Homo sapiens: one gene and its partners. The protein of the gene in region 4 interacts with the protein of the main gene of each other region in a pairwise test. Each region holds a gene or a part of one and is shown on either strand. Other genes may lie near its edges.

What was found.
Region 1: the proteins of NDUFV2 (region 4) and SPATA22 interact in binary tests that used the Homo sapiens proteins (3 or more experiments, as listed by UniProt).
Region 2: the proteins of NDUFV2 (region 4) and COPS3 interact in binary tests that used the Homo sapiens proteins (3 or more experiments, as listed by UniProt).
Region 3: the proteins of NDUFV2 (region 4) and SULT4A1 interact in binary tests that used the Homo sapiens proteins (3 or more experiments, as listed by UniProt).
Region 5: the proteins of NDUFV2 (region 4) and LGALS9C interact in binary tests that used the Homo sapiens proteins (3 or more experiments, as listed by UniProt).
Region 6: the proteins of NDUFV2 (region 4) and SORL1 interact in binary tests that used the Homo sapiens proteins (3 or more experiments, as listed by UniProt).
Region 7: the proteins of NDUFV2 (region 4) and PIAS1 interact in binary tests that used the Homo sapiens proteins (3 or more experiments, as listed by UniProt).

What each region holds. Positions count from the first base shown.
Region 1 is NC_000017.11:3,451,014-3,455,313, reverse strand, and holds part of SPATA22 (spermatogenesis-associated protein 22), read left to right. Parts: intron 1-4,300. UniProt on the Homo sapiens protein: Meiosis-specific protein required for homologous recombination in meiosis I.
Region 2 is NC_000017.11:17,260,146-17,264,445, reverse strand, and holds part of COPS3 (COP9 signalosome complex subunit 3), read left to right. Parts: intron 1-2,339; coding exon 2,340-2,480; intron 2,481-3,971; coding exon 3,972-4,145; intron 4,146-4,300. UniProt on the Homo sapiens protein: Component of the COP9 signalosome complex (CSN), a complex involved in various cellular and developmental processes.
Region 3 is NC_000022.11:43,859,228-43,864,206, reverse strand, and holds the start of SULT4A1 (sulfotransferase 4A1), read left to right. Parts: upstream 1-1,693; 5' UTR 1,694-1,824; coding exon 1,825-1,993; intron 1,994-4,979. UniProt on the Homo sapiens protein: Atypical sulfotransferase family member with very low affinity for 3'-phospho-5'-adenylyl sulfate (PAPS) and very low catalytic activity towards L-triiodothyronine, thyroxine, estrone, p-nitrophenol, 2-naphthylamine, and 2-beta-naphthol.
Region 4 is NC_000018.10:9,129,935-9,134,234, forward strand, and holds part of NDUFV2 (NADH dehydrogenase [ubiquinone] flavoprotein 2, mitochondrial precursor), read left to right. Parts: intron 1-2,288; exon of another isoform or gene 2,289-2,464; intron 2,465-3,456; exon of another isoform or gene 3,457-3,576; intron 3,577-4,251; coding exon 4,252-4,300.
Region 5 is NC_000017.11:18,486,419-18,490,718, reverse strand, and holds part of LGALS9C (galectin-9C), read right to left. Parts: intron 3,820-4,300; exon of another isoform or gene 3,803-3,819; coding exon of another isoform or gene 3,779-3,802; intron 3,073-3,778; coding exon 2,962-3,072; intron 1,779-2,961; coding exon 1,683-1,778; intron 1-1,682. UniProt on the Homo sapiens protein: Binds galactosides.
Region 6 is NC_000011.10:121,605,447-121,609,746, reverse strand, and holds part of SORL1 (sortilin-related receptor preproprotein), read right to left. Parts: coding exon 4,176-4,300; intron 2,903-4,175; coding exon 2,790-2,902; intron 2,562-2,789; coding exon 2,457-2,561; intron 1,644-2,456; coding exon 1,571-1,643; intron 1-1,570. UniProt on the Homo sapiens protein: Sorting receptor that directs several proteins to their correct location within the cell. Along with AP-1 complex, involved Golgi apparatus - endosome sorting.
Region 7 is NC_000015.10:68,085,103-68,089,402, forward strand, and holds part of PIAS1 (E3 SUMO-protein ligase PIAS1), read left to right. Parts: intron 1-1,203; coding exon 1,204-1,648; intron 1,649-2,742; exon of another isoform or gene 2,743-2,788; intron 2,789-4,300. UniProt on the Homo sapiens protein: Functions as an E3-type small ubiquitin-like modifier (SUMO) ligase, stabilizing the interaction between UBE2I and the substrate, and as a SUMO-tethering factor. Catalyzes sumoylation of various proteins, such as CEBPB, MRE11, MTA1, PTK2 and PML.

The DNA of each region.
Region 1 (4,300 bases), on a different chromosome or scaffold from region 4:
CAAATGGGATCTAATGAAACTAAAGAGCTTCTGCACAGCAAAAGAAACTACCATCAGAGTGAACAGGCAACCTACAAAATGGGAGAAAATTTTCGCAACCTGCTCATCTGACAAAGGGCTAATATCCAGAATCTACAATGAACTCCAACAAATTTACAAGAAAAAAAAACCCCATCAAAAAGTGGGCAAAGGATATGAACAGACACTTCTTAAAAGAAGACATTTATGCAGCCAAAAGACACATGAAAAAATGCTCATCATCACTGGCCATCAGAGAAATGCAAATCAAAACCACAATGAGATACCATCTCACACCAGTTAGAATGGCGATCATTAAAAAGTCAGGAAACAACAGGTGCTGGAGAGGATGTGGAGAAATAGGAACACTTTTACACTGTTGGTGGGACTGTAAACTAGTTCAACCATTGTGGAAGTCAGTGTGGCGATTCCTCAAGGATCTAGAACTGGAAGTACCATTTGACCCAGCCATCCCATTACTGGGTATATACCCAAAGGACTATAAATCATGCTGCTATAAAGACACATGCACACGCATGTTTATTGCGGCACTATTCACAATAGCAAAGACTTGGAACCAACCCAAATGTCCAACAATGATTGACTGGATTAAGAAAATGTGGCACATATACACCATGAAATACTATGCAGCCATAAAAAATGATGAGTTCATGTCCTTTGTAGGGACATGGATGAAATTGGAAATCATCATTCTCAGTAAACTATCGCAAGGACAAAAAACCAAACACCGCATGTTCTCACTCATAGATGGGAATTGAACAATGAGAACACATGGACACAGGAAGGGGAACATCACACTCTGGGGACTGTTGTGGGGTCGGGGGATGGGGGAGGGATAGCATTAGGAGATATACCTAATGCTAAAGATGAGTTAATGGGTGCAGCACACCAGCATGGCACATGTATACATATGTAACAAACCTGCACATTGTGCACATGTACCCTAAAACTTAAAGTATAATAATAATAATAAAAATAAATAAATAAATAAAACAAAAAACAATATCAATTCTTCAAATCCATGACACAGGATTTTTCATTTATTTTGTCTTCAGGTTTTTTTTTTTTAATCTGTTTTATATTTTTTAGTGTATAGACCTTTCTCTATCTTGGTCATTTATTCCTAAGTATTTTATTCTTTTTGGTGTTATTGTAAATGGGATCATTCTCTTGGTTTCCTTTTGGAATATCTATTGTTGGTGTAAAGAAATGCTCCTGATTTTTGTATGTTGATTTTGTATCCTGCAATTTTACTGAATTCATTTTTTAGTTCTAACAGTTTCTTAATGGAGTTTTTAGGGTTTTCTACATACAAGATCATGTCATCTGCAAACAGAGACATTTACTTCATCCTTTCCAATTTGCGCTCCTTTTATTTCCTTTTCTTGGCTAATTGATTGGCTAGGACTTCCAAGACTAGTTGAGTATTACTTGTCTGAAATATTTGGGATCAGAAATGTTTCAGATTTTTTTGTAGTTTGGAATATTTTCAGAATACCTACCAGTTGAGTATCCTAAATTTGAAAATTCAAAATCTGAAATGCTTCAGTGAGCATTTCCATTGAGCATCATGTTGTTGCTCAAAAAGTTTCAAATTTTGGAGCATTTCGAGTTTTGGATTTTCAGATTTAGAATGCCCAGCCTGTAACTATGTTTGAATAGAAGTGGTGAGAGTGGGCATCCTTGCGTCGTACTGGATCTTTGAAAAAAAACTTTCAGTTTTCCCCCATTATGATGTTAGCTGTGGGAATTTTGCAAATGACCTTTATTGTGTTGGAGTATGTTCCTTCTATACTTATTTTTTTTAGAGTAAACTGAATGGATGTTGAACTTTGTCAGATGCTTTTTCTGCATCTATTTTTGTCTTTAATTCTGCTACTGTGGTGTATAACATTGATTGATTTGCGTATGTTAAACCAACCTTGCATCCCAGAAATAAATCCCAGTTAATCATGGTGTATAATTTTGTTAAAAAATATTTCAACTTTCACTTTAAATATAAGCGGTACATGTGCAGATTTGTTTACATGGGAATATTGTGTGATGCTAAGGTTTGAAGTATGGATCCTGTCACCTCACCCATGAAGTGAACAGAGTACTCGACAGGTAATTTTTTTGATGTGCTGTTGAATTTGCCTTGCTAGTATTTATTGAGGATTTTTGCATGTATGTTCTTTAGTGATATTGGCCTGTAGTTTTCTAGCAGTGTCTTTGTTTGATTTTGATATCAGAGTGATGCTAGTCTCATAAAATGAATTTGGAAGTGGAATTCCCTCTTGTTTTATGAAAGAATTTCAGAAAGATTGGTATTAATTTGTCTTTGAATGTTTGATAGAATTCACTGTGAAGTCATCTGGTCCTGGGCTTTTCTTTGTTGAGAGGTTTTTGATTACTTCGTTAATCTCCTTATTATTGGTCTGTTTAGGCTTTCTGCCTCTTCTTGATTCAATCTTGGTAAGTTGCTTGTTTCTAGGTATTTATCCATTTCTTCTGTGTTATCCAATTTGTTGTCATATAATGTTCATAATAGTCCTTTATGATCTTTTTTATTTCTGAGAAATCCATTGTATGTCTCCTCTTTCATTTATTTAAATCTTCTTTTTTCTTTTTTTAGTCTATGTAAGGGGCTGTCGACTTTATCTTTTCAAAAAAATAAGCTCTTAGTTTTTCTTTTTTTTTCTTTTTGAGACGGAGTCTCACTCTGTTGCCAGGCTGGAGTGCAGTGGCACGATCTCGGCTCACTGCAACCTCCACTCTCGGGTTCAAGCAATTCTCCTGTCTCAGCCTCCCGAGTAGCTGGGACTACAGGCCTGCCCCACCATGCCCAGCTAATTTTTATATTTTTAGTAGAGACGGGGTTTCATCATGTTGGCCAGGATGGTCTCGATCTCTTGGCCTTGTGCTCCGCCTGCCTCGGCCTCCCAAAGTGCTGGGATTACAGGTATGAGCCACCTCGCCCGGTCCCAGTTTTGCTTTTTTTTTTTTTTAATTCTCTATTTTATTTATTTCTACTCTAGTCTTATTATTGCCTTTATATGCTTATTTTGGGCTTAGTTTGTTATTCTTTTTCTAATTTCTTTAAGTGTGAAGTTAGGATGCTTATTTGAGATCTTTTTATTTCCACTTGGGCATTCATTGCTATAAACTCCCCTTAGTACTGCTTTTGCTTTCCCATAAGTTTTGGTATGTTATGTTTTGTTTCTGTCTCAATAATTTTAAGATTTTCTTTTTTAATTCCCTCTTTGATCAATGATTGTTCAAGAGGGTGTTGTTGTATTTGTGAATTTTTTCATTTTCTTTTCTGGTTTTCTTTTTTTTTTTTTTAATTGAGACAGAGTCTCGCTCTGTCGCCCAGGCTGGAGTGCAGTGGTGCAATCTCGGCTCACTGCAATCTCCGCCTCCCAGGTTCAAGTGATTCTTCTGCCTCAGCCTCCCAAGTAGCTGGGACTACAGGTGCATGCCACCACACTCACCTAATTTTTGTATTTTTAGTAGAGACGGGGTTTCACCATGTTAGCCAGGACAGTTTCGATCTCTTGGCCTTGTGATCCGCCCACCTCGGCCTCCCAAAGTGCTGGGATTACAGACGTAAGCCACCATGCCTGGCGAATTTTTCCATTTTCTAGCTGTTATTGATTTCTAGTTTTATACCATTATGGTCAGAAAAGATACTTGGTGTGATTTTGATCTTCTTAAATTTGTTAAGTCTGTTTTTGTGACCTAACGTGAGTTATCCTTCAGAAAGTTCCATCTGTGCTTGAGAAGAATGTGTAGTCTTCTGCTGTTGGTTGGCAAATTCCATATATGTCTTTTGGGTCCATTTGATCCATAGTGTTGTTCAAGTTCACTGTTTATTGATTTTTCTGTCTGGATGATTTATCTATTATTAAAAGTGGAGTATTGAGCTTTCTTTTTTTTATTATGTTGCTGTCAATTTTTCCTTTTAGATTTGTCAATATTTGCTTTATATATTTAGGTGCTCTGATATTGGATGTATATATGTTCACAATTTTTATGTCTTCCTATTGAATTTACCCATTTATCATTATATAATGACTTTCTTTGTCTTTAGAAACAACTTTTAACTTAAAGTCTATTTTGTCTGACATAAACTTAGCCACCCCTGTTTTCTTTTGGTTGCTGTTTGCATGGAATATCTTTTTCCATCCCTTTATTCTCAGCTTTTATGTGTCTTTGAATCTAAACTGAGTTCATTGTAGACAGCATACAGTTGGATCTTTAATCCACTCAGCCTCTCCTC
Region 2 (4,300 bases), on a different chromosome or scaffold from region 4:
ATTTTGTTAAGTTTTATTTAATCAGTGAAACATTCTCTTGATTCAAAATTTAAAGGGTAGAAAGGAGTACACAGTAAAAGTCCCTCCCACCCTTTCTGTGTCTGTGTAATGAAACATAGTACACAATTTGGTAGAATATTCTGGAGGTTTACTCAGACTCTGAAAAAGAGATACACAATATTGATTAATAAACCACTTTACTTAAGGTAAATTAGTTAGATGTTCGTAAGTTCCTATTTAGTTCATAGCATGTATTAAGTAATAAAGGATATTTAAAACCTTCAGAGAGCTCGGTTTAGTTGGAATTCTAATACATAATACACATGCATACATGTACACACATCCGTGGCTCTGAACCATACCACAATGAGTGGTTGATGTGTCCTGTTGAGGGGACCTGAGGAGGGCCACCATAAGGTGCCAGTAGGCAGAGATGGTGTCATTAAAGCACGTGTCTAGTCAGGTTAAATCTTCAAGGTGGCTTCTCTTTAAGACTACGCATTCGGAAAATTATAAAAATGCACTTCGTAGCCACTGGATGCATTATCATTGCTGTAGCCAAATATAGTTAACTCATGAGCAAACTTGATCTTGAAATATCAGGATGAGTGGGTGTTAAAAAGGTAAGAGGCGTCCGAGTGCGGTGGCTCACGCCTGTAATCCCAGCACTTTGGGAGGCCGAGGCCGGCGGATCACCTGAGGTCGGGAGTTCGAGACCAGCCTGACCAACGTGGAGAAACCCCATCTCTACTAAAAATACAAAATTTAGCTGGGCATGGTGGTGCATGCCTGTAATCCTAGCTACTCAGGAGGCTGAAGCAGGAGAATTGCTTGAACCCAAGAGGCGGAGGTTGCAGTGAGCCGAGATCGTGCCATTGCACTCCAGCTTGGGCAACAAGAGCAAAACTCCATCTCAAAAAAAAAAAAAAAAAAAAGAAAAGGCAAGAGGCTGGGTGAGGTGGCTCACACCTGTAATCCCAGCACACTGGGAGGCCGAGGCAGGCAAATCGCCTGAGGTCAGGAATTCAAGACCAGCCTGGCCAACATGGTGAAAATGTCTCTACTAAAAATGCAAAAATTAGCTGGGCCTGGCAGCAGGCGCCTGTAATCCCAGCTACTCAGGAGACTGAGGCAGGAGAATCTCTTTTTTTTTTTTTTGAAATGGAGTCTTGCTCTGTCGCCCAGGCTGGAGTGCAGTGGCACGATCTCGGCTCACCGCAAGCTCCGCCTCCCGGGTTCACACCATTCTCCTGCCTCAGCCTCGTGACTAGCTGGAACTACAGGTGCCTGCCACCACACCTGGCTAATTTTTTGTATTTTTAGTAGAGATGGGGTTTCACCATGTTAGCCAGGATGGTCTTGATCTCCTGACCTCGTGATCCGCCCGCCTCGGCCTCCCAAATTGCTGGGATTACAGGCATGAGCCAACACGCCCAGCCAGGAGAATCTCTTGAACCAGGAGATGGAGGTTGCAGTGAGCCGGGATTGCGCCACTGCACTCCAGCCTGGGTAACAGAGACTCGTCCTCAAAAATAAAAAGACAAGAAAGTGGCCAGGCGTGGTGGCTCATGCCAGTAATCCTAGCACTTTGGGATGCTGAAGTGGGAGCATTGCTTGAGCTCAGGAGTACAAGACTGAACAACATAGTGAGCAACATAGGAGTCAGCCTGAGCAACATAGTGAGACTCCATTTCTACAAAAAATATTTTTTTTTTTGAGACGGAGTCTCGCTTTGTCGCCCAGGCTGGAGTGCAGTGGCGCAATCTCAGCTCACTGCAAGCTCCGCCTCCTGGGTTCACACCCTTCTCCTGCCTCAGCCTCCCAAGTAGCTGGGACTACAGGCGCCCACCACCACACCCGGCTAATTTTTTTGTATTTTTAGTAGAGATGGGGTTTCACTGTGTTAGCCAGGTTGGTCTCGATCCCCTGACCTCGTGATCCACCCACCTCGGCCTCTCAAAGTGCTGGGATTACAGGCATAAGCCACCGCGCCTGGCCTCTACAAAAAATTTTAAAATTAGTCAAGCATGGTGGCCCACTCCTATAGTCCCAGGTACTCAGGAGGCTGAGGCAGGAAGATTGCTTGAACCCAAGGAGTTTGAGGGTACAGTGAGCCATAATTACATCACTGCGCTCCAGCCTAGATGACAGAGCGAGACCCTGTCTCTAAAAAATGCATAAATAAAAATAAAATGAATTCTATCTCAATAAGGCTGTTATAAAAATAATGGGACATTTAAAAAGTATTATTGACTTATAATTAATGTGATACATGTGGTTGATTGTTGTTTGCTACTGTGGTATGTTCTCTTTACAGCAAGCATTCTTCTCTTGCCTAGGCTATAACTACTCCTGCCATGGCGGTCAGTCATATCATGTTGGAATCATATAAAAAGTATATTTTAGTGTCTTTGATATTACTTGGCAAAGTACAACAGCTACCAAAATATACATCTCAAATTGTGGGTAGATTCATTAAGGTAAGTTTTTTACATAAAACTGATTTCTTACGTGAGCATGTTGAGTATATAAAGAAATTGCAATGATACAGTTCTGTAACTTCGTTTTATACTGATTTAGCTCTCCTAGCAGCTTCAGGTGAGCAGACATTTATTGAATGTCTGCTACACATTCTCATTACCTGATTGGAATGGAATATTTCTCAGGAACCCGTTTTCAAACTTGTGCTCTAGATACTTACAGCTATAGATGTTTAAGCTCCTATAACAGTTGATTTTTTTTTTTTTCCCTAGAGACAGAGTCTCGCTATGTTGGCCAGGTTGGTGTTGAACTCCTGGCCTCAAGCAGTCCTTCTGCGTCTGCCTCCCAGAGTGCTGGGATTACAGGTGTGTGCCACTGAGCCTGGCCTTTATTTTGTTTTGTTATATTTTTCATTTTATTTATTTATTTATTTATTTAGAAATGGAGTTTTGCTCTTGTCACCAAAGCTGGAGTGCAGTGGCGTGATCTCAGCTCACTGCAACCTCTGCCTCCCGGGTTCAAGCGATTCTCCTGCCTTAGCCTCCCGAGTAGCTGGGACTACAGGTGTGTGCCACCATGCCCAGCTAATTTTTTGTATTTTTAGTGGAGATGTGGTTTCACCGTGTTAGCCAGGATTGTCTCGATCTCTTGACCTCGTGATCCACCCGCCTCGGCCTCCCAAAGTGCTGGGATTACAGGCGTGAGCCACCATGCCCGGCCCTGTCTTCCTTCTTGCTAGCAGAAGTAGCAGATTGTCCTGTTGCATCTGGTGAGGTGTGAGAAAGAGAGAGGGAGAGTTGGGAATGATGAATGTTTTGACTCCTTTCTTCTCTATATGATTTATCAGTAGAAAAACAGAAGCACTGATGAAGACGTGTGCCTTCACTAAATTCAGTGGGTTTTCACCTGCTGTGTTATTACTTGGTCTGTAGTACAAAATTTTGTGGAAAATGAATTACTCCATAGTGACTTTCTATCCCTGGTCTTAAAAACCAGGCATTTGCTTTGGGTAAATTATAATTTGTAGGGTAACAGTGTGTAGTTACCTGACAATATGGGATATACTTGCTTAAAAAATAGTATGTAAGTGTGTTTTTGCTTCCTATACACATTTGAGTCTTCTGAAGTTTGTTTGTTTGTTTTTGGTTTTTTTTTTTTTTTTGAGACGGAGTTTTGCTTTGTTGCCCAGGCTGGAGTGCAGTGGCACGATCTTGGCTCACTGCAACCTCCACCTCCTGGGTTCAAGCGATTCTCTTGCCTCAGCCTCCCAAGTAGCTGGGATTACAGGCATGTGCTATCACGCTCAGTTAATTTTGTATTTTTAGTAGAGACGGGGTTTCTTCATGTTGGTCAGGCTGGTGTTTAACCCCTGACCCCAGGTGATTTGTCCGCCTCGGCCTCCCAAAGTGTTGAGATTACAGGCGTGAGTCCCCACACCTGGCCTCTTCTGAAGTTTTAATCTGAATTTTTTCCCTCCTTTGCATCTTTAGCCTCTTAGCAATGCATACCACGAGTTAGCACAAGTGTATTCAACCAACAACCCCTCAGAACTCCGAAACCTGGTGAATAAGCACAGTGAAACCTTCACTCGCGATAACAACATGGGGCTGGTGAAGCAATGCTTGTCATCTCTTTATAAGAAGAATATTCAGAGGCTAACAAAGGTGAGGAAAGTGCCACCTTCACAGGGCAGCTCCTGACCCCCTGGGGGCCATGTTTCCCTTTCTCTCCCTTTTCAGAGCTGAGGAAGCAGGTACAGGGATAAAGCATGGCAGGATTTCTGTGCTGAGAGAGAACTCTCTTGTGATTGGCTTCTTAG
Region 3 (4,979 bases), on a different chromosome or scaffold from region 4:
TCAATCCCTCTAGCTTTTGGCTAGATGCCCTTTTGCCATTGGCCTAATTATTCTGAATAAAGGCTGGGTGCTCGGAATGTCCTCTTTCTTTTTTGGAAAGACATCTACAAGCTTCCCAAGTCAGGATTAATTGCTGTTTCCTCTCTCTGTCTGCTATGTACACATGGCCTGCGCTTCTCAGCCCATGTGTATGTCTTTGGTGTCAGAATGCACGTGTCTCACTCTACAGTAAGAAGGAGAGAGTAGGAATAGGTCCCGTCCAGCCACTCTGCTCCAGATTCTTGTTGGTGTAAACTCCTTCCATCTTCCTGGCTACACTACTTAGAGGTAGGAATCATTCTTTTCCTTTACACAGCTGATGATGCTCGGCTGCAGAGAATGAGAGCAGGCTGTGTTGTTTTCATCTTTGTGCTTCCCCAGGCATGTTAGTAGGTGCTTCATATATGTCTGTTGAGTGCATGACTGGCAAGGGGTTGCACTGAGATCTCTAGAACTCGGTTGCTCTCAAATTATAGTTTGCACAAGAAGTGCCTTACTAAATGTATATTTTTGTAATTTTTCTCCATAGATCTGGGGTCCTGGAATTTGCAATCCAACACTCCCCTCCCCTACTCATGGGATATTAAGAAGCACTTTTTGGCTGGGCGAGGTGGTTCACACCTGTAATCCCAGCACTTTGGGAGGCCAAGGTGGGCAGATCACGAGGTCAGGAGATTGAGACCATCCTGGCTAACACGATGAAACCCCGTCTCTACTAAAACAAACAAACAAAAAATACAAAAAATTAGCCAGGCATGGTGGCATGTGCCTGTAGTCCCAGCTACTCGGGAGGCTGAGCCAGGAGAATGGCGTAAACCCGGGAGGTGGAGCTTGCAGTGAGCTGAGATCGCGCCCCTGCACTCCAGCCTGGGCGACACAGCGAGACTCCATCTCAAAAAAAAAAAAAAAAAAAAAAAAGCAAAAAAAAAGCACTTTGTTTTTTTGGCTGGACTAGGTGGCCCATACTTTTTTTTTGTTGTTGTTAGAAGATCTCGTCCTGTTGCCCAGACTGGAGTGCAGTGGTGCAAGCTCACAGCTCACTGCTAATTTTTTTTTTTGTATGTTTGTAGAGATGCGGTTTCACCATTTACCCAGGTTGGTCTCGAACTCTTGACCTCAGGAGATCCGCCCGTGCTCGACCTCTCAAAGTGCTGAGATTACAGGCGTGATCCACCGCGCCTGGCGAAGACGCATATTTTTAATAGGACCTAATATTTACCTGAAATTATCTTGGTTATTTACCAATGTAAGCTCCAACAGGGCCAGGCTTCTGCTTGCTTCTACCCTGACGCGTGTCGGGGCCCTGGCCCAGTGCCTGGCACAGATCAGCAGCGCGCTAAGCACGTGTTGAATGGACGACTACCTTTCAGGGCCTTCCAGCCAGGGTATCTCATGCGTCTGTGTTGAGCGCTTGCTGAGTGACAGAAGCTATGAGCGGAATGAACGCACGCACGACTGAGGAGGCTGCAGACCGCGGGCCAGGGTCTCTGTCAGCCCCGGCAGCGGGTGGGTGACCCCGGCCGGGGGCGGGGCGGGGAGGACGCGGCTCCGCGGCGCCATGACGTCACGCCCGTGCAGCGCCGCGGCCGCGTGCCGGGCGGCGCCATGACGTCATACCCGCGGAGCCTCCGCCGCGCGTCGGCGGCGCCATGACGTCACGCCTGCGGAGCTGCCGCCGCGCGCCGGTGGGGCGCGAGCGTGTGCGGGGCGCGGGCGCGGGCGCGGGCGCGGGCGCGTGCGGGCTGCGAGCCGGGAGGCGGCGGCGGCGACGGCGACGGCGGCGGCATGGCGGAGAGCGAGGCCGAGACCCCCAGCACCCCGGGGGAGTTCGAGAGCAAGTACTTCGAGTTCCATGGCGTGCGGCTGCCGCCCTTCTGCCGCGGGAAGATGGAGGAGATCGCCAACTTCCCGGTGCGGCCCAGCGACGTGTGGATCGTCACCTACCCCAAGTCCGGTGAGCCCCGCGCCGACCGCGCCCGCCACGCCATGCCCCAGCCCTGCAGCGCGGCCGCGTAGACGCCGCGCCCGCGCCCGGGGCTTCTGCTGGGCCGGGTGGTCGCCCTTGGCCTCCGCCCCTGCCGTGCCCACCGCTCTCCCGATGCTCGGATCCCTGCGGGGCGGGGTGGGGTGGGGTGGGGGTGGGAAGGGGCTTGGTTCTCATCTGGGGAAACCAAGGTCAGAGACCTTCGGGAGCGGCCCCTTCCGTGGAGATGGAGCCTATTTGGCCGGCGCTGCAGGAGGATGGGCCCAGGGCCGCCACCCATCCCTGCTTCTCCCTTTACCTGGCTGGCTGTGTGACCTTGGACAGGTCACTCAACCTCTCTGTTCCTGAATCCTGCCCAACCTTTGATGAGTGCAAAGTCCTGGTGTTCACCTGGGAAGGGAGATAACATGGGCGTCAGGGCTTTCAGCGTGGAAACGTAACGTCCCTCCTTTCCAGCCTGGGCTCCGGGTGGGGGATGGGACCAGTCCCCGCCTGGAGTGCCTTGCTTGTACATTCTCTTGTTTCAGGGCTGCCTCCATCACCGAGGCAGGACCTGGGGCATTCACATTTCCCAGCATTAGCTGACGTCACTTTCACAATAACAGCTGTGTGAGCTAGTGGTGGTCATTCCCACTTTACAGTCTAGGCACAGAGGCTCAGAGAGGGGAAGAGGCTGGTCCAAGGTCACTCAGCTGGTGAGTGGCTGACCTGGGAATTAAAGCTAGGCTGGTCTGTTTCCAGACCTGAGGTAGGAGATTGTATAGTACCCCATCTGAGGTTTTTAGGGAAAGGAGGTAGCAGCTTTCCTGTTCTGTAAACATGCCCTGGGATTTCCTTGTTGCCACTGTATTTGAGGCAATCACAGCGTGGTTTAGAAGGTGTCTGGCTCTAAGGTCACGCCGGACCAGCAGTCGGGCAGTTTCAGGAAAAGCTGTAGGCTTGGCTGTTGTAGCTGTATGGAGTTCCAGACACCTGAGGGCAGGTCTCTGACATTCTTCTGAGGAAGATTGGAGTAGGGACTCTCAGTGGAGGGTGTTGGTTGGAGAACAGAGCGTTCGATGGGCTGCTATCTTGAGCACATGCCAGTCGCCGCATGGGGTGGGACCTAAAATGCTTTAGGAATGGCTAAGCGTGTCGTTGGCTTCTGTGGCCACTCATTAAGTCCTGCGGGCCAAGTGCTCTATCGCTGTTAATCTGTGAGGGACTCTTACACCTTTTTTTCAGAGGCTCAGAGAAGGCACAAATTGTTCGGAGTCACACAGTTGCTGAGGGACAGAGGTCAGGTCTAGCTAGGTCTCCCGGTCCACGGCCAGCCTCTCCCCTGCCTTATGGGTGCTCCGTTGCCCTTGGAAAACCGTGAGGGCCCAAGAAGGAGGGGGACCTAGCCTTCTTTCTTGGAGGCTTTAAAATGCTGGAAGTCTCAGCCACTTAGGGATTTTGAGGTTTGTGTCACTTCTCTGAGGCCCCTCCAAGTGGACTTCTGGTAGCCCAGTTCATATTTTCTTTTCCTTTCCTTCCATCTGCTACTGGGGATGGATTTGTAGCAGGCATCAGTGCTTACACATTAAGAACCTGGCTTCGGAGTTGGAAGTCCTGGGTTTGAATGCAGTTTTGCGGCTTACCAGCAGAGTGACCCTGGGCAGATCATAGAATCCCATTGAGCTGTGGTCTCTGCGGAGGGAGAAGAGACCACCTCGGCCCGCTGATGTGTGGCTGTGAGGATGAGCAAAATGGCGGGTGAGAACGCTTAGCCCACGTCCAGACACACGCTGGAAAGGCTCGTGGTTAATGCTGACTTTTAAGCCCTGAACACCTGTTGTGCCCAGATGCTTTGCTAGGGGCTGGGGAAGCCGAGAGGGCCCCATCTGGTGCCTGTCCTTAGTGAGCTCTCAGTCTGATGGGGGAGACATGGTTGGTGCTGGGGTTGGGGCAAGTAGCCAGGACTAACAGGTGCCCCATTCACCTGCCATGGCAGGGAACCCACGGGCCTCCTTGGATTTCCAGTGCCCAGGTGTAGGAGATCCTAATGAACTTGCAGGTGGTCAGAGCCGGAAGGGCCTGGTCCCTTGTCAGCCCCTTCCCACCCTCTGCTGATGGAGAAACTGGGGTTCAAAGGGGTGGTGGGGGCTTTCTGGTGGCTAAGGCAATGATAATTAGATCCTGCCTTCGCTTCCTGTCCGGTATTTTTTCCCACAACCCCGTGCTGCTTGCTCGGATTCTTTTTGTGCTTGCGACATTCTAGCTTAGATGGCGGGTTAGGACTGTGCTCTCCAGCGTAGGACCCTCTGCCCACAGGCGGCTGCTTACATCTAATGAATTAAAATGAAATAAAAGTGGAAATTCTGTTCCTCAGTAGCATCACCATGTTTCAGGTGCTCAGTAGCCACATGGGGCTAGCGGCTGCCGTATTGGGTGGCGCAGATATGGAGTGTTCCCATCACAGCTGAAAGTTCTGCTGCACAGCGCCAGGTAAAACCGTGATCCAGACAGTAGGAGCCCATTGTGTCTTCTGAGAAGGACCTTTCTGTTGATGACCGACTTTGTTCCTATTCATTCTTACAGCGTAGTTGGTCCTGGGACGGTGGTTGTATTAAATCCGATTGTGTCTGTGAAAATATTTTGTCCCTGTGTGTTGGTTTGATGCAATCACTGCCACTGGTTTTGTCAACAGGTTGATTTGAATTGGGTGCTCGTCCCCGAGGGGGCACAGCCCCAAAGTCATGGAGCTTGGGCTTTGAAATACGGTCCCTGGCTCAGCCAGAGCACCCACTGCCCTGAGTTTATTTTGCCCCTGGTTCCGGCCAGTCCTGAAGTGTGTGCGCATTCTCACTGATGCAGACGGAAGCTTCTGGGCCTGGGCGTGGGTGAGCCACCTGGTTTCTTTGAACCTCAGTTTGCTCATTAAAAATGAGAGGATTTGACCAGATTGATTCATTTAAGTCTTACATTTTCAGAC
Region 4 (4,300 bases):
TTATGAGTGATTTTCAGCTTTTTGGCTTGAGCATCTCTGAGGTTCCTTTACCGAAAATAGAGAAGATTTGTGGTAGGGCAAGTTTGGGGAAGAAAAGTCAAATTTTGTTTTAGACATAGTAAGTTTGAGATGCCTGTTAAGACATCCATGGTATGATGCTGATAGGTAGATACGAACCTGGAATATAGGGAATAGGTTAGGGCTGGAAACACAAATTGGGGATTCATCAGTTACTAAGGGTAGTATTTAAAGTTATAAATCTGGATGACATTATCGGGGTGAAATTAAAATCTGTTATTTGTAATATGAGGTACTATAACATTGTATTTTAACAATAAGCAGGAACTAAGTACTCAGTTAAGCATTTTCAACAACATCTGATAATAATAGGGATGTTACTTATCAGTAATCATGAATAGTTTTTCGCTGAGATTTTCTTGACAGTGTTCTGGATTTGAGCCAAATACTTCAAAATTATTCGTGTCCGAATCTCTTTTTTTACTTACTACCTCTTATTTAAAAAGCAGACAAAAGTCTACTTAGGTTTCAATAATTGCAAGCATCCACCAATGCTGTATTATATAAAGCTTGTATTTGGACATAGCAATACTAGAATGTCTTGTCAGCATATGAAAACAAGAACTTTTCACTTTACTTACCCAATATCTTGGATATATAGGATAATGACAGAGACTGGGATAGCAATAACCATAATATAGTTATAGTTATTCTAAATTAACCAAAGCTGTCTAATTCTTTTTTATTGGTATTTTAATAATAAATATCTCTGCTCTTTGAAAGAGGTACTAATTGTGCGTCTCTGTAATGAAAAACCGAGAGGAATTAAACTGGTTCAATAGTAACTGATTCCTGAGTACCACTGCCAGGTCTTACCCTGGCCAAAATTAGTAAAAGACTGATGTCTATATGTGGTTCAAAACTGCTTTTGTATTATCGTTGGTGAATGACCACTGAAAATATTAAAGCAGTGGTAAGATAATACAGTTGACTCTTGAACACCATGGGCGTTAGGGACATTGATTGCTCATGCAGTTGAAGATCTGTGTGTAACTTTTGACTCCTCCAAAACTTTACTCATAGCCTGCAGTTGTCTGAAGGCCTTAACAAATAACATAGTCAGCACATATTTTGCATGTTGTCTGTATTATATACTGACTGTATTCTTACCATAATCTAGAGAAAAGAAAATGTTATTAAAATCATAATGAAAATATATTTACTCTTCATTAAGTGGATCATAGTACAAGTCTTATCATTTTCATGTTGTATAGGCTGAGGAAGAGGAGGGGTTGGCCTTGCTGTCTCAGAGGTGGCAGAGGCTGAAGAAAATCCATGTACAAGTGAACCCATGCAGTTCAAACCTGTGTTGTTCAGGGTCAGCTGTAGTCTCTTAATCTTGACATTACTAAATATTTTTGTGCTGAGATTGTTCTTATTTTCAGTGAATTTAAAGTACTGAAAAATTCTAAACTTGTTTTCAGGTTACTAATAGGTAGAAATTTTTTAGTATGGATTAGTTTATAACTCATTTTAAATCCAACTTTAATTCTTCATATTTAGAGCTAGGCTACAGTTCCAATGCGGTTGGTAGATGACTCTAGACAATAACATCACTTTTGGTTTTTTATACTAAAAGTAGGGACAGTGCTGGATATATCTCAGCAATAGTAAAAAGCACTAAACTTTTATAAAGTAATTTGTCTATGTAAAGTACTTTAAGCCATGAAAGTTTACAGAAAGGCCAAGTTTTCTAGAAAGCAAATAAGTTAAAATGGTACACATACGTATAGTGTTGGAATGACTGACGAACCATACTTTTTAAATTTTAGTGAAGATGTAATTATTAGATGGCATTTTAAGCATGAGATATCAGGAAAATCATTTTTTGTTTAGTAAGTGAAAAACACTAGTGTAAATTGTGGCTGTCAGGTGAGTGGATAGGGCTAGCTCACTGCCTCTTGAGTGTTCTGAGGCATGTTTACAGATGAAAGGGGGGGTTACATTTTTAGTAGATTAAACAAAATTATAGGCTTTATTGGAGGATTTTTGTAGCCTTTGTAGTATTTTAAGGTACACTGTGTGAATGGCGAGGAAGGGAGGTTTACAGCCAGACATACTGGATCACTGGGACTCCCGTTTTTCTATACAATGCCATGGGATTGTAATTTTATGGAACAAACTTTAGGAAACTCTAGACCAGATTATTTTTAAAATTACTTCCATATATAAAATTCTATAATCCTGTGAAGAACTCAGGAAGTACTTACGATTAATTCTCCCATTTATTGTTCCGGAAACTTCAGTTTTTATAATCTTCCTAAATTGATCCTTTATGTTGATAAACAGTGTCGATATTAAGGAGCTCATTAATTTTGGAAGATCCATATCTATCCAAACTGGTAAGAGGCTTTAAGATAACAAATGCTCAGCTTTCAGGAGACGTCTAAAATGAAACTTTTAAATCATATTCCATTCTGATATTTGATCAAGAGAAAAGTTTTAGGCAGAAAAGAAGAGGTAGCTGAGCTTAAACCGTAAGAAGAAACCTAGTAAAGGTGAAGAAAGTTTCTCCAAAATAATTTCATTGACATTTAAAGAGCAGCAGTGGTGCCTATCAATAGGCAACATAAAAAATTACAGGCCGGGCACAGTGGCTCACCTGTAATCCCAGCACTTTGGGAGGTTGAGGCGGACAGATTGTTTGAGCCCACAAATTCAAGACCAGCCAGGGCAACATGGTGAGGTCTTGTCTCTACGAAAAATACAAAAATTAGCCAGGCATGGTGACGCACACCTGTAGTCCCAGCTACGTGGGAGGCTGAGGTGACAGAAGCACCTGAGCCTGGGAGGTTAAGACTGCAGTGAGCCATTATTGCATCACTGCATCCCAGCCTGGGTGACAAAGTGGGACCCTGTCTCAAAAATAATAAATAAATTTAAAAATTGCAAAATATAATACTGTTGTCTTTTTTTTAAAGTTAAGTATCATTTTGCTGCTTACTCTACAAGTTTCAGGCTCTTACAGTATACAATGACTGCTTTTTTATCTGTTTTTGTAGTGAACAAGACCTATAATCCAAAGATATTAACTAAGTTCTGACTTTGTAGATAATTGTTCATTACTTAGTAACTTGTATTATATGCTGTGACATCTTGAAAGATCTTATATTATGTGGTGTCACTTTCCTGGCTCCAATAAAAAATGATTCCCTAGGGCTCTAAAGAACAGACTTAAAGGATTGATGACACAATGTGAAGGGCAAAGCCAGAGGGGGTTGAAAAGATATAAACTGAACAAGTTCTTTCTTTAGGTAAATCTGTGGCAGGAACAGGTAAATTAGCAAAGCCAGGGAATAGTGGTGGAGGGGTGACATACAGTAAGTCTGAGCTGGGCTCTAGAAACAGAGGTCAGACAGGGCAGAGGTGAGCAATTACCTGGGAAAGCGTGTGTGGGGTTGACAGACAGGTTCTTCTCCCTCTATGCTGCCTGTCTTCATAAATTGCTCCATCAGGACTTGTTCTTGTTTGCTTCCTTTTGTGGCTGCTATGGCCATCCTGGTTTGGAAACTTTTTTCAGAAAATTACTACTACTAATATAGTCTTTATAATACATAAATACAAACTGATTTTGACTTCGCTGCTTCTAAGGGACATTGTCCCAAATCATATTTCCTCAAGGAATCCAGTTTCTATTTCCAAATACAATGTATAAGTGTGTGTATTCCCTCTATTCACTGTGACTGTGGATCTTGATCTAAATAAAATTCAACTCTAAAAAGAAATACAGTGCTCTAGTTTATTAAAACATGGTTTTTAAAAATGTTCTCTGGGGTTGGGTATTTTTGCCGTAGTTCTTTGCTTTGATTCTTGGGTAGATGCTGAATCTCCCAAATTTGGTTTCTCTAACTGTAAAATAAAGCCAGTATCACTTGTCTTGTGGCATCGTAAGGATTCAATGAGCTAGTGTATGCATACTGCTCAGTAAATAGGAACTATTATTAGGGCTACTTTTGTATTTTTTATGTTTATGGTGAAGTCTGATGTTTTTCCATATTTAAATTTAGGAAGAGAAAATCTTGCATCAGTTGAAATGTTTGAATTAAATAATCTATGCTAGTTCTTAGGGTAAAAATAGTTACTTAACTGGGCTCTTGTGAGGTAACCATTACAATTTAAGTAAAAATTTACAAATGTTAATCATTAATAGTTTAATATTACTTTTCATTTCAGGAGTGGACGCTTCTCTTGTGAGCCAGCTGGAGGTCTTACCTCTTTGACT
Region 5 (4,300 bases), on a different chromosome or scaffold from region 4:
AGAGTCAGAACGGTGGTTATTGCGGGCACCACAGAACGGGGAGAGACGATGGCAGAACTCCAGGGAGGCTCTTGTGCTCAGAAATGCCTCCCCAGACACACCCACCTCCCTCTTGCTCCCAAGCAAGCCTTCCTGAGCCCGTGGCACCCAGATTTTTACCCTCAGGTGCACAAGGCTTTGGGGTTGAGGGGTAGGGTATCCCCACTGGTTCCTCTCGAGAGAGAGGAGGCTGGGTTTGATAGAGACCTCATTGCTGTCTGTAGCTCCCACAGCCAAGAGCATTACTTCCGGTGCCATATTTCACCCGTAAGCTGAGAAGTGGTATTTGTTGAAGGCCTATTGTGGGCCGAGTCCTGGGCTTCAGTGCTTTCCAAAGAGGGAAGCAGCCTCAGCTCCTGTGTCCCTGGTGAGGCAATGAGGCTCAGAAAGATTAAGCAACTTGCCCAAGCTTGCCCGGGTGGAAGGGATCAAATCCAAAATGGCAGCCAATTCTGTCTGACTGTATCCAGCACACTTTCTGTCATCCCTAGGGCCAGGGCCAGCGCCAGGGCCAGGGCCAAAGTTTGGCTGCCCTGCGAATGTTCCCTGGGGCTCCACCAGTCCTGAAGTCAGCGTGGCAGGAGGCAGGTGCACTGTCTGTACCATCATGGGCCATAAAAAGGCTACATAGACAAAGCGCCCCTCCTCCCAGTCCCCACTGCTTGAGTGGCCAGAGGAAGGGCTGCCCACCTCCTTGTCGTGGATCCTGCCCCACCCAGTAGACTGTTCTTGCCCTGGCTGGTATCCCATTCTCCCTGGCTGCGAAAACCACATTCCACATTCATCCATTCTTCGAGTCCCTAAGTGAGTGCCAGGCACTGTGCAAATGAACGACCCACAGTCCCAGCCCTCTGGGGCCTCATGGGCATAGGGAGATGGGGGTGGAGTGACAGGGACAGACACGCAAACAGTTACAATGGGGTGCTGTGAACTGGCATGGCACAGATATGTACAGACTCCGTGGGGGCATGGGGGGAGCATCCAACAATATTCTGGGCAGGGAGGACTCCCAGAGGAGCGACACTTTGGCAGAGCATGGAAGGGCGATTAGGCGTGTGCTGAGGGCAGGCTGGCAGAGGGTGCTTCCGGGACCAGGGACAGCATATGCAAAAGCATGGTGGCCCGAGAGGGCCTTGAGTGAGCCGTGGAGGTTGCATGAGCTTCGTGGGTTGGGGGTGAGGCAAGGAGGTGGACTGGGGCCAGACTGGGGAGGAATTCGTATGCCCTGCTGGGGAATTTGGGCTTTGTTTAAAGGGCTGGGGACTTTTAAGATTTTTAAGCAGGGAGAGAGTGTGATCAGATTTGCTTATAAGAAGGTCACTGTGGCAGCGGTTGGGTGTGGGGGGTGGGGAACTGGACCCCTGTAGTCATGGTGAGGAATCCCAGAGGCCTGGGCCACATCGGTGGCTTTGGGAGGGAGATATGTTGGTGCCTTGGAGAGACATAAAGAAAGGGTAGTGAAGAATCCAGGGCAACACCCAGGTCCCCGGCTCTGGGTGCCCAGCAGACAGAGACAGGGAACTCTTGAGTGGGCAAGATGTGGCCCATAGGCCCTGGTGGCCTGCTGGCTGGGGCCAGCCTCTCAAACCCTCGGTCCTTCCTGCTGTCTGCTCAGCCACCCAGGGCCTCTGTGTTGAACTCACTTTTTGTCTGCGCCCCCTGGGCCTGGGTGGGAAACAGACAGGCTGGGAGAACGGCACCGTGGAGAAGGCAGGCTGAACGGGGACTGCGCGGGGATTCTGTTAAAACAAAAGGCACCGGCCGGTGAGGAGAAGCATTAATAGAGCCAAGGAGAAGCCGAAAGGCAGATGCAGGGGCAGGAGGCAGAGAACAGGCAGGCAGGGGGATGCAGCAAGGGGGTTAGGGCCACACGGAGGCGGGAGCGGAAAGGGCCAGGCTTCGGTGAGCAGCGCAGGGGGACAGTCTCCCTCCAGCTCTTCCCTCCCCTTCCACCCGCAGGGGAGAGAGTCAGGGAAGGAGGGAATGAGAGATGAGGACCAAAGGGTGAGGAGCCCAGATTTGCTGAGGGCCTACTGTGCACTTCGCTCATCTCAGGGAGCTCCCTTGAATGCCAAAAGGGTAACAGCAGCTCCCATCCAGCTGCCGGTGCCCTGTGGGAATGTGGGCCCAGCATACCCTAATCTTCCCATTTTTCACGTGGTGTTGGTATCTCCTGACCTTCTTTAGTTTTATTTATTTTATTTTATTATTCAAACAAAAAGATTTTAGAGATGGGGTCTTGCTATGTTGCTCAGGCAGAACTCTAATTCCTGGGCTCAAGCGATTCTCCTGCCTCAGCCTCTTGAGTAACCAGGATTGCAGACCTCCACCACCATACCTGGGTCTCCTGACCTTTTAGATGTTGGCAACGCATTCAAAGTTTTTAAAACACAGAGGTCACACAGACCCTGGTGTGGGCCCAGGGGCGCCATTGTGTGACCTCTGATATCTGTCTCCTCAATGAATCACACAACCACCCATGGGGGGCAGGCAATGACCATGCTCATTCTACAGATGACAAAACTGAGGCTGAGAGAGGCAAAGTTGCTTGTCTAAGATCCCACAGATGACGAATGGCAGAGCTGGGAATTTGAACTGGATTCAGTTTGGTTCTTGAGCCTGGGCTCTTTCTAGAACAATATGCCCTCCTTACCAGGATGGAAATTGACGGATGAAGAGAAAGGGGCAGCTGAGGAGTCTGGGAGACCAAGGCAGGTGTTCCAGACAGAGACAGTGACACAGAAGGAGGGGCAGAGTGACAGAGGAGAAGGGGCGGGCAGGTACTGGGACAGGGAAGCAGAGGTTGTCCCCAGAGTGACCTGGGTAGGAGATTGGCTTGGGTCCCCCCAGCTGGGCCTAAGCACAGCTACGCTGGGCCCTGCATCCCAGCCCCTGGGACCGGTGCCAGGTGGACAGTCTGACCTGGAAGCTGATGTAGGACAGCTGCACAGAGCCATTGACGGAGATGGTGTCCACACGGTGGAAGGGCACGCGGTGGAAGTACTGCACGAAGAGGCTCCCGTTCACCATCACCTGCCAGAGGAGAGCACGTATTTCGGGGGAGGTGCCCCAGGCCGGGATGGGGACCACCCCTGAGCTCCTGGTCCCTCCTTCTAAAAAATGAAGACCTGAGTCTGGTCTTCAGTGTGGGGCCAGTTACAGGGACGTGTGTGTGGCCCGAAGTGCATCAACCGGAGTCTCTACTGGGCTCCAGTCGGGCTTTCCATTCTTCTGGTTGTTTCCTTCCCCTTTCTTCTCACTCCTCGATTTCCAGCCTGGTTAGGAGGCCATATTGTTCCAGAAAGAGCCCATGCTCAGGAACCAAACTGAATTTCCTGGGGTTTCATTTATTTATTATTTTTCCTTCAACTTTTTTTTTTTTTTTTTGAGATAGAGTGTCACTCTGTCAGCCAGGCTGCAGTGCAGTGGTTCAAGCGATTCTCCTGCCTCAGCCTCCCGAGTAGCTGGGATTACAGGCATCCACCACCACACCAAGCTAATGTTTGTATTTTTAGTAGAGACGGGATTTCACCATGTTGGCCAGGCAGGTCTTGAACTCCTGACCTCAAGCCATCTGTCCTCCTCACCCTCCCAAAGTGCTTGGATTATAAGGGTGAGCCGCCGTGCCCAGCCCCTTCAACTTTTATTTTAAGTTCCAGGGTATGAGTATAGGATCTGCAGGTTTGTTAACTAGGTAAATGTGTGCCACAGTGTTTTGCTGCACAGATCAACCCTTCACCTTGGTATCAAGCCCAGCATCCATTAGCTAATCTTCCTGATGCTCTCCGTCCCCGACCAGGCCCCAGTGTGTGTTGTTTCCCCGCTTGTGTCCATGTGTTCTCATCGTTCAGCTCCTACTTATAAGTGAGAACTTGCGGTGTTTGGTTTTCTGCTCCTGCAACGGCTTCCAGCTCCATCCATGTTCCTGTAAAGGACATGATCTCATTCCTTTTTAGGACTGCAGGGGTATTATTTAAATATGCATAAAATGCTCACGGGGAGCAGAGGAGAGGTGACATCGGGTTGCATACTGAATGGATGGGAACATCCTTATCTCAGATAAGCATATTCAGACTGAGTTACCCACCGGCTTCTCAAGCCCAGAGACCTACTGTGCTTGCAAAGGTAATTTGCAATGTGCTTACAGAACTATAACCGTAATAGACTCTGGATAAGGGCTGGAACAATGTCGCTGAAAAATAAATGTTACCAGGGACCTGGAGAGGAGGTATGGTGATAGCAGAGGAATGGAATGAGCTTG
Region 6 (4,300 bases), on a different chromosome or scaffold from region 4:
CTACATTCACCAATTAACCTGGCGCGTCTGGCTGATGCCTCTGCTGTCTTTGTCCTTTATCTTAAAACGTTATTATGATACTATGTCACAGATATTTTACAACAAACACTTTTTGGATGTGGCACACAGCTGCCTTCTGTACAAATCCTAGCCCAAATATATGCAAGCAGCTGAGATTCATCAAAATCACAGAAAAGAAGTTAAAGAGAACCAACCATCCACTGAGATTTTCAAATGCAGTTGTGACTTGTGCCTTCGGAATTCAAGGTACATGTATTTGGTTGCTCTTCCAACATCCCTTCTTGGTATGTGTGGTCAGTGTTTTGAAACAGACTTTGTAGAGAGAAGAGATACAACAATAAAAATTCTAGGAGAGTGTGAATTCAGCAGGCTTTCTCTAATACCTGCAAGCATTCAGCTCCAAAGACCATCTGGTGGCACTACGTTTGGCCGCCTTGGGCCCTGATCTCAAAGGCTCCAGATTTTAGAGGGGACTAGATAGTGACTCTCCATGACCCAGAGCCTATTCCTCACAGGCTTAGGTTAAAGTAAAATCTTCCAGTCCTATTGCATGCCACAGTGTCCATCTGGTTTTAATACCTGGAAGTCCAGAAATGCAAGTCCCCAGTGTCAAGGCTAAGGTCAGGAAAACCACTCTGGAAAATGAGTTGTAGTCCATCTCCCAAAGTATGCCAGAACCCTTCATTTAACTGCTTCGATTCACTCAATCATCAATTATTTCCTTAGTCTCTACTAGATGCCCGTGATAGAGTAGAGAAAAACAGACCAGATCTCTGCCCTCATGAGGCACTCGTGCAAGATGCTGAGCCCGCCACCCCCGGCAAGCAGGGCGGTCCAGTAGGCCGCATGTGTCTCAGCCCAGAGAGAAGCGTGGAGCACAGTGGTTAAGAGCACAGGCTTTGGAGTCAGGCAGATCAGGTTCCAGGGCCAGCTCTGTCACTTACTGATTGTGTGGCCTGGGACAAGTGACATAACCTCATTCCAGTTCCTTATCCTTTCTTGTAGTTGTTCTGACTGTTCAATTAGATGAGCTGATGTACGCAAAGCAGTGAACACTCTAGAGTGTCCTGCCCTTGGCAAGCCATCAGTTATTACTAATATCAGCTCTAGTACAAGATAAAAAACCACCTACACACAGTTTGCCAGTGCCACTGGGAGAATAACAAGAGTCAGCATGGTGCTTTCTTTAAAACCCCGTAAGTGAACATGCACAAAATCATCTTCAGCTTTGGTGAGAAGGAAGGACTCCTTCTATTTTAGATATTTTGACTACTCACAAAGGGCTGCGCATGATGGCCTTTGGAAATCCCTTTGTATGTCTGCATTAGAAGAAATGCTCAATACTAGGAGGAAAAAGACACTCAGTCACCCCAAAAAGACTCTATCTAAAGCACTACAGAGACACCCAAAAATGTGCGTGTGTTGGGGAGAAGAAAGTTGTGTGATGTTTTTCTAAACTACGTTTCTCCATTTTCCGGTCATACTGAAAGTCATTTGAAAGGGTTTGTATAATATTTTCTCTAAATCTGCAAATGCTGGGATCATTTACCTTTTCCTTTTATGGTGGTAATGGATTTAGAATCGCTCCAGTTTCCTATTCCACGACTAGTCACCGCAGCCACCTTTTCAAATCAGAGGGTGAATTAATATGAAATAAAGGCAATACACCATACACCATACAGTAAGAATACTGAATGAGCTAAAGGGGTGAGATTTTGGCAGTGAGGCTGGAAAAATTTTATACAGAGTGATCCAGAATATTCAGAGGCCCCAGCATCTGAAATAAGAGGGCAAAAAAGCCAAGGGAAGGAGCTTGGGTAAAGGGCATTATGACAGTCCTGAGATCAGAAAATTTCTATTGATCCACAAATATCAAGGTTCTTCTAAAGGGCAGGTGTATGGGGGGGTGTGTTCATAAATACACACATATACAAAAAGGGTACTGACAAAATTATCAGTGTGAGAGTCATGAATGTGCACACTTAATGGTCTCAGCAAACATGTTGTTCACAAAATCTATCTCTTTCTGCTAAAAATACTAAAAATATATTTCATAAGAACCTCATAAAATCAGTTTAGAAAGACTACTTATCATAGCTCTGCATCATCCTGCAGCTAAAGATAAGCAGGAAAGAGCTGACTGCAAAAGTATAGGAGCTGGAAAGCTAGCAGAATACCGGAGTTAAAAGCAGGGAAAGCGGCATTCCCATAAACGCCCGGTTATCTACAGAAACTCTGATGTCAAGCTCTTTGTGGTGTCCATTTAAGAGACTGAAAGAAACTCTGAGCTCCCCCGTCCCAGGGCAAGAAGTTGGGTATTTTGCAGATTACTAATATGCATCTCACAAAGGTGAGTAGAGAGTTCTCACAAAACAGCAGCAATTTCGCTCAGTTCTAAGACTGCATGGATGGCTGGAATGGATGACGACACTCACTCTGACGGTGTATAGAGTGTTGACCAATAAGTTCTTGATTTCTGTAAAGTTACTAGCAGCCCTCTGGGAGGCCCACATCTTGGAACCACTCCTGCTGTATTCTACCTAAAGGGAGAAGAAAAAAAATGTGAGTAAAGGGAACCAAAGGTCCAGGGCATCCTAATATCTTGCAAGGAGGCTGGAGGAGAGAAAAGATGGTGAGGAGCAAAATGTTCTGACGGATGGGTCATCACCTACAAAGCTAAACCAAATCAACCCCCTCGTCATACAGAATACCCAGAAATCTCCTAGCACCCCCAACACACATACAGCCAACTCATGGAAGGTACTTACAATGTACTCACGGATGAGGCCATGGGTGTGGATGGGAGGAGCCCAGTGGCCTACAATCACACCTTCTGCTTCCCTGGGGAGTGACAGCTGGAGATTTCGAGGGGCATCTGGCACTAGAAAAAGAGTCAACTCAAGGTTAAAACCCATCTGCATAGCAGCCAACCAGAGGAATTTTCCTGGGCTTAGAACAAGGACAAGAACGACTCCACAGCCGGCATTGAGACTATCCACTAGAAAGGCTGCTAGCTTGGTCGTCACATTGAAAAGACACTTTTCCTCTTCTTCCAAAAAGCAAGGTGTGCCGTCCACACATCACATCATGGCTCAGTTGAGTGTGTGGTAAATTTGTGGCTCATAAGGGCTGCAGGATAGAATCACTTGGGCAGGCTGAGTCACCACTGACCCTGAGACTTCCATGCTGAGATCTTAATTGTCAATGACAGCACCTGCTGCCTCTGCTTCTTGTACAACAAAAACTGTACTGTGGGCATGACTACCAAAAAATAAGACTAATTTTGTAACATCACAGAATTTCTATATCCAAATGAATTTGATCATCTTCAAAGCAGGCTCCTTAATGAGTTTAGCGCTAGCATATTCAGGATACTTTAGGCAATGAAAAAAGATGACATTCAAGCAGACAGTTGCTCATGTCAACTACTTTGAAGTAGGGAGGAGGCGAGGAACTCTCTTAGACACATAAATTTGGTAAATTTCTTAAAAACTTAGCCACAAAGCCAGGTGCAGTGGCTCACACCTGTAATCCCAACATTTTGGGAGGCTGAAGTAGGTGGATTGCTTGAGCTCAGTAGCTCAAGACCAGCCTAGGTAACACGGCAAAACCCTTTCTGTACAAAAATACAAAAAGCTAGCTGAGCATGGTGGCACACACCTATAGTCTCAGCTATGCGAGAGGCTGAGGCGGGAGGACCACCTGAGCCTGGGAAGACTGAGGTGGTGAGCAGTGATTGCGCCTCCACTGCACTCCAGTGTGGGTGTCAGAGTGAGACCTTGTCTCCAAAAAGAAAAAAACTTAGCCACAAAATTGCTGATATGCCTCATATTTTAATGACGATGACCTCCTCCTAAGTACCAAGTACTAGGAAATATCTAGAGGAGGAACGTAGAGGTAGAAACTAGACAAAAAATGCAAGAGGGCAATGGTGGAGAGAATCTTAAATTAACTTAAGGTACAAGAACAGTCTCTGATGCAGTAAGAAGAACAGATGTTTGACAACTCTGGCAAGACTATAAAGCTTAGCCACCATACTTCTGTACATGTGAGGCACACATATGTTCCCACATTCCTGAGAATACTCAGAAAGACCCTCACAAACCCCGACCTGAGGTCTTACCCATGCCATAAAAATTAACTGAAACACTTACATCCCTCTGGGGTCCTCAGGGTCACAAAGTCATTGGTGTTGTGTGCCTTGCTGAGACACTGAACCTGTACTTTAACCTGATACGTGGTATCTGGTTTCAAGACTTTTAATACAGTGTTTGTCTTA
Region 7 (4,300 bases), on a different chromosome or scaffold from region 4:
ATTGTGAGTGGTGGTGAGTTAGGGAAGGCAGCATAAGCATAGCTTTTGTGTATTTGGTATGAGGTGAAGGAATTAGTTGGAGAAATAGAGAGCAAATGGTAAGCTTACATGTGTCTTTTTATCCTAATACTCCCTGTCAGTGGTGATGCAATCTTTTAGGATTCTGCTAATAGCTGTGTGATCTTGGGTAAGTGATTTCTTCTCTTTGGATTCCATTTTCCACCACTTTAAAATGGGAGGATTGGTATAGATGGTCATTTCCTATTAGTAGGTGGGGAAAAAGGAGAAAGGGGGACTAAATAAGTTTGCGAACATAGGTAAACAAAGTTAAATAGATTACTGCAGCCTCATGCATTATGGCATATGAATTGGGTTGCTGGACTTCTAGCTTGGCCTTGCAAGTTAAGTGAGAGTCAGTAATATGAGTCCAGCTCTGTCTTTTTCCTAATGGTTTAGTGGAAAGAGCATGGGCTTTAGAATCAGACATATCTGGGTTTGAATCCTGACTACTCCTTAGTAGCTTTATGGCTTTATAAGTTATCTAACCTTTCTGAACTTGTCTCCTCATGTATAAATCAGGCAGGATAATACCTTGCGGAGTTGTAAAGATAATGACATTCCATGTGAAAATATCAAATAGAATATCTGATATATAATTGGTCAAAAAAGGTGTAACTTAAGTCTACAAATTCCAGAGTTAGTACAGAATGTAAGTAACACTTGATAATAGCTATTGATATCCTGCCTACATCTGGTGTTTGAGATGGACTGTTTGTTGTTTCATATATACTTATAATTCTTCCCCAAGAAAACAAAATATTCTTGAGAGCACATCATTACGTTTTGCCATCTACATAGCACTCGACATTCTCCTGGAGACTCAGTAAGTGCTTGATAAATACCTGACAGTTTCATCAAAACAGTGGAATAAAGTGAGGTGTGGTTTTCCCTGGTGTATACTTTATCCTATATTTCTTATAACCAAGGGTAGAAGTCAATGAATTTATGAATATTAATTTTAAATTTCTTTGGTTACTTAACGTTAAATGATTAAATTTGAAGTTTGAAATAATAGGATTATAAGTGAGCTGGCCTTTATTTGCTTAAGTAAACCATAAGAAGGGGGTTATAATAAAGTGTCATTTAATAGTGTAAATTATATTATTGGAATACTAATGTTTTACATTTTGTTTTTTCTCTAAGCAAATGGTTATGAGCCTTAGAGTTTCTGAACTCCAAGTACTGTTGGGCTACGCCGGGAGAAACAAGCACGGACGCAAACACGAACTTCTCACAAAAGCCCTGCATTTGCTAAAGGCTGGCTGTAGTCCTGCTGTGCAAATGAAAATTAAGGAACTCTATAGGCGGCGGTTCCCACAGAAAATCATGACGCCTGCAGACTTGTCCATCCCCAACGTACATTCAAGTCCTATGCCAGCAACTTTGTCTCCATCTACCATTCCACAACTCACTTACGATGGTCACCCTGCATCATCGCCATTACTCCCTGTTTCTCTTCTGGGACCTAAACATGAACTGGAACTCCCACATCTTACATCAGCTCTTCACCCAGTCCATCCGGATATAAAACTTCAAAAATTACCATTTTATGATTTACTGGATGAACTGATAAAACCCACCAGTCTAGGTAAGATTATTGTATGATAGTATTTGGTTACTTTTGCAGGATGAATTTTCGTTTTAGGCTTTTACTTTGACCCAGTTTATTATTCATAATGAAATTTTCATTTGATAGTAACAGCTGGATAATAATGAAGATCTTTCAAATTTAGATAAAATCAAATATATAAAAGCTGTCTTTCAGGAAAAAAGGTAGTATAGTGATGGTTACTGACAAAGTAAATATTAAAAAGTTTCAAGAATATAAACTTCCAAAGAGTAGTATTTTAGAAGGTTGATTAATATTTTATAATATCTCATAAATTAAATTAAAACCAAATGAATCACTACAAGTCTCTGATTAGTTCTTAATTTTCAGGGGTTGATGATCTCTAAAACAAATCACTGACTAGTTTTGATTATTTAAATGAGTGAATGGTTTTAATGATCATAAAAGGAGACTTGAGCTTTGATGTATGCTAGTTAAATTTCAGCTGATTTTTTTCAAGTGGAGAAGTGCATGCTTTACAGGCATGCACATGCACATGCACACTCATGATTACGGTTATATAATATAAGTGCTTGAAATTTATTTTACTGTGTTGTTCCATCATTTGATTTGTAGTCTAGCATATAGAATTCAATATATTAATCAACTTGTAATTTTAATTGCTATAATGCTACCTTATTTATTTAACGTAGAATAAAACTCAACTGTTGTGACCTCTGATGCCTTTGGTATAATATATTTAAAATATCAGACTTCTAAATGCTGGTTTGTTGGCATACTACGGCTGGCAAGCTAAGTCCAGTCTGTGGCCTGTTTTTATGTGGTTCTGAGCTAAGAAATCTGAAAAATATTCCCAAAGAGTTATTAACAAAAAAGGAAAGAAACAAAAACAAAGAATGTGTAACGGAGACCATGTGTGCCTGTAAAGCACAAAATATTTACCCGTATAGTAAAAGCTTGTGAATCCCTGTTACAGATCATTGAACATTTCAGTTTGGGGGACTGGCAAGTGTTGAGAACATTTTTTGCGAATTTTTGAGAACATTTTGAAAATGTTTACTGAAATTCTATCTTTGAAATATGAAGTGTTTGTTTTTAATTATATTTAGCAGAAATTATCTGAATACACGAAGATTATAGGAGTCATTTTCAAACAACGTGAGTTTTGTATCACATTATTTTATTTTTTAAGTGGCCATAATAAGAAAACATTTTTTGAGAATCTACTGTATGCTTATAAAACTGACACATGCTCATTGTAAAAAATGGAATTGCCAAAGTTCCTTCCTTGTTAGCTGTTTAGTGTGTATGCATATATAGTATAAGCAAATTGTTTCTTGTTTTTTACAGAAGGAATCATATACATAGTATTGTATAACTTCCCTTTTTTCCCCTTAATAATATATCATATGCATCTTTTCTTGTCTGTCTGATTATGTGTGTGTATATATATATATATATATATATATCCCATTTTAAATTAAAGGCCATATCTGTATCTATCCATATCTCTGTATATGGTCTGTGTACATGTATGTATGTGTACATATGTGTTATGTATTGATCAGTTGATGAAAACGTTGTGACCAGGGGCTTGCAGGAACCTAACCCTATACTTCCCCTGGTAGCAGTGATTATATATTCGCAAATTCAGTGTTTGTGGTGATTTTATGAACATAAATGTCACAAATAGCAATAATTGACTATATTTGAAGTATGATTTGAATGCCAGTTTTCATGAATAAATCTGCTGTTTGTGGTATGTATTCACAGAAAGTCACCAAATGAATAGGTGGTATAGAATTGCTTAGTGATATGTAAATAGATTTTCAGTATCTCATCGTTATAGAATTAAAAACAAACCAATTTAATATGCATAAAAAGATCTCACCACAAAGTAATTTGTGGAAGTTTATTGGCTCAATAAATATTTGTTGAAGGGCAATGCTTATTGAATGTGAAAAATATTTATTGAAAAAAGATTTTATGTAATTAGTCTTCAGGGTGTAGGATGAGTATATTTTAAGGCTCTGTTTTTATAAATTCTTTAACATTATTAAGACTTTTTCTGTACTTCATTAAATGAAGTGGCTACATTTGTCACATAACTTAGTTTCCTAAATGATTATTTTTGCCGGTAGTTCATTTGTTTTAAATCTAAGAAAACCACGTTTTCTGGAAAATTAAATAGCTTCCAGCATTCTCTTCATTTCTAAACGTACATACATTTAAAATCAAGTTTTTGAGAACATAGTTTCGAACACCAGCTGGCTAGTTGATCACAACTATCACTGAGTCCAGAATGGGACAGGCACATTTACTTTTTCATTTTTTCCCTTCCATTGTGGCCTTAAGCACTAGATTTAAACAGATTTTAAGATGTTCAAATGTAAACTGAATGTTTTTATGCATGGTTTTGTATTTCTAACTAAAATGGAAGACAGTAGTTCTGATAATTCCCATTTTATTAGGTAATTCTCATTCATTCTTACGATCATTTTGTTATTTCTTTAAAACAATTTAAAATAATTTTAAGGCCTTTATTTTGGAGCCATAATTAAAGTATTCTTTTCATTGTCCATAATTAACTGTAAGAATTGAGAGGTGAAGTAAAAGGTGGTTGTAAAGTAAGATGTTTAATTTATTGTTTACTTTGGCCTCTCATTATCT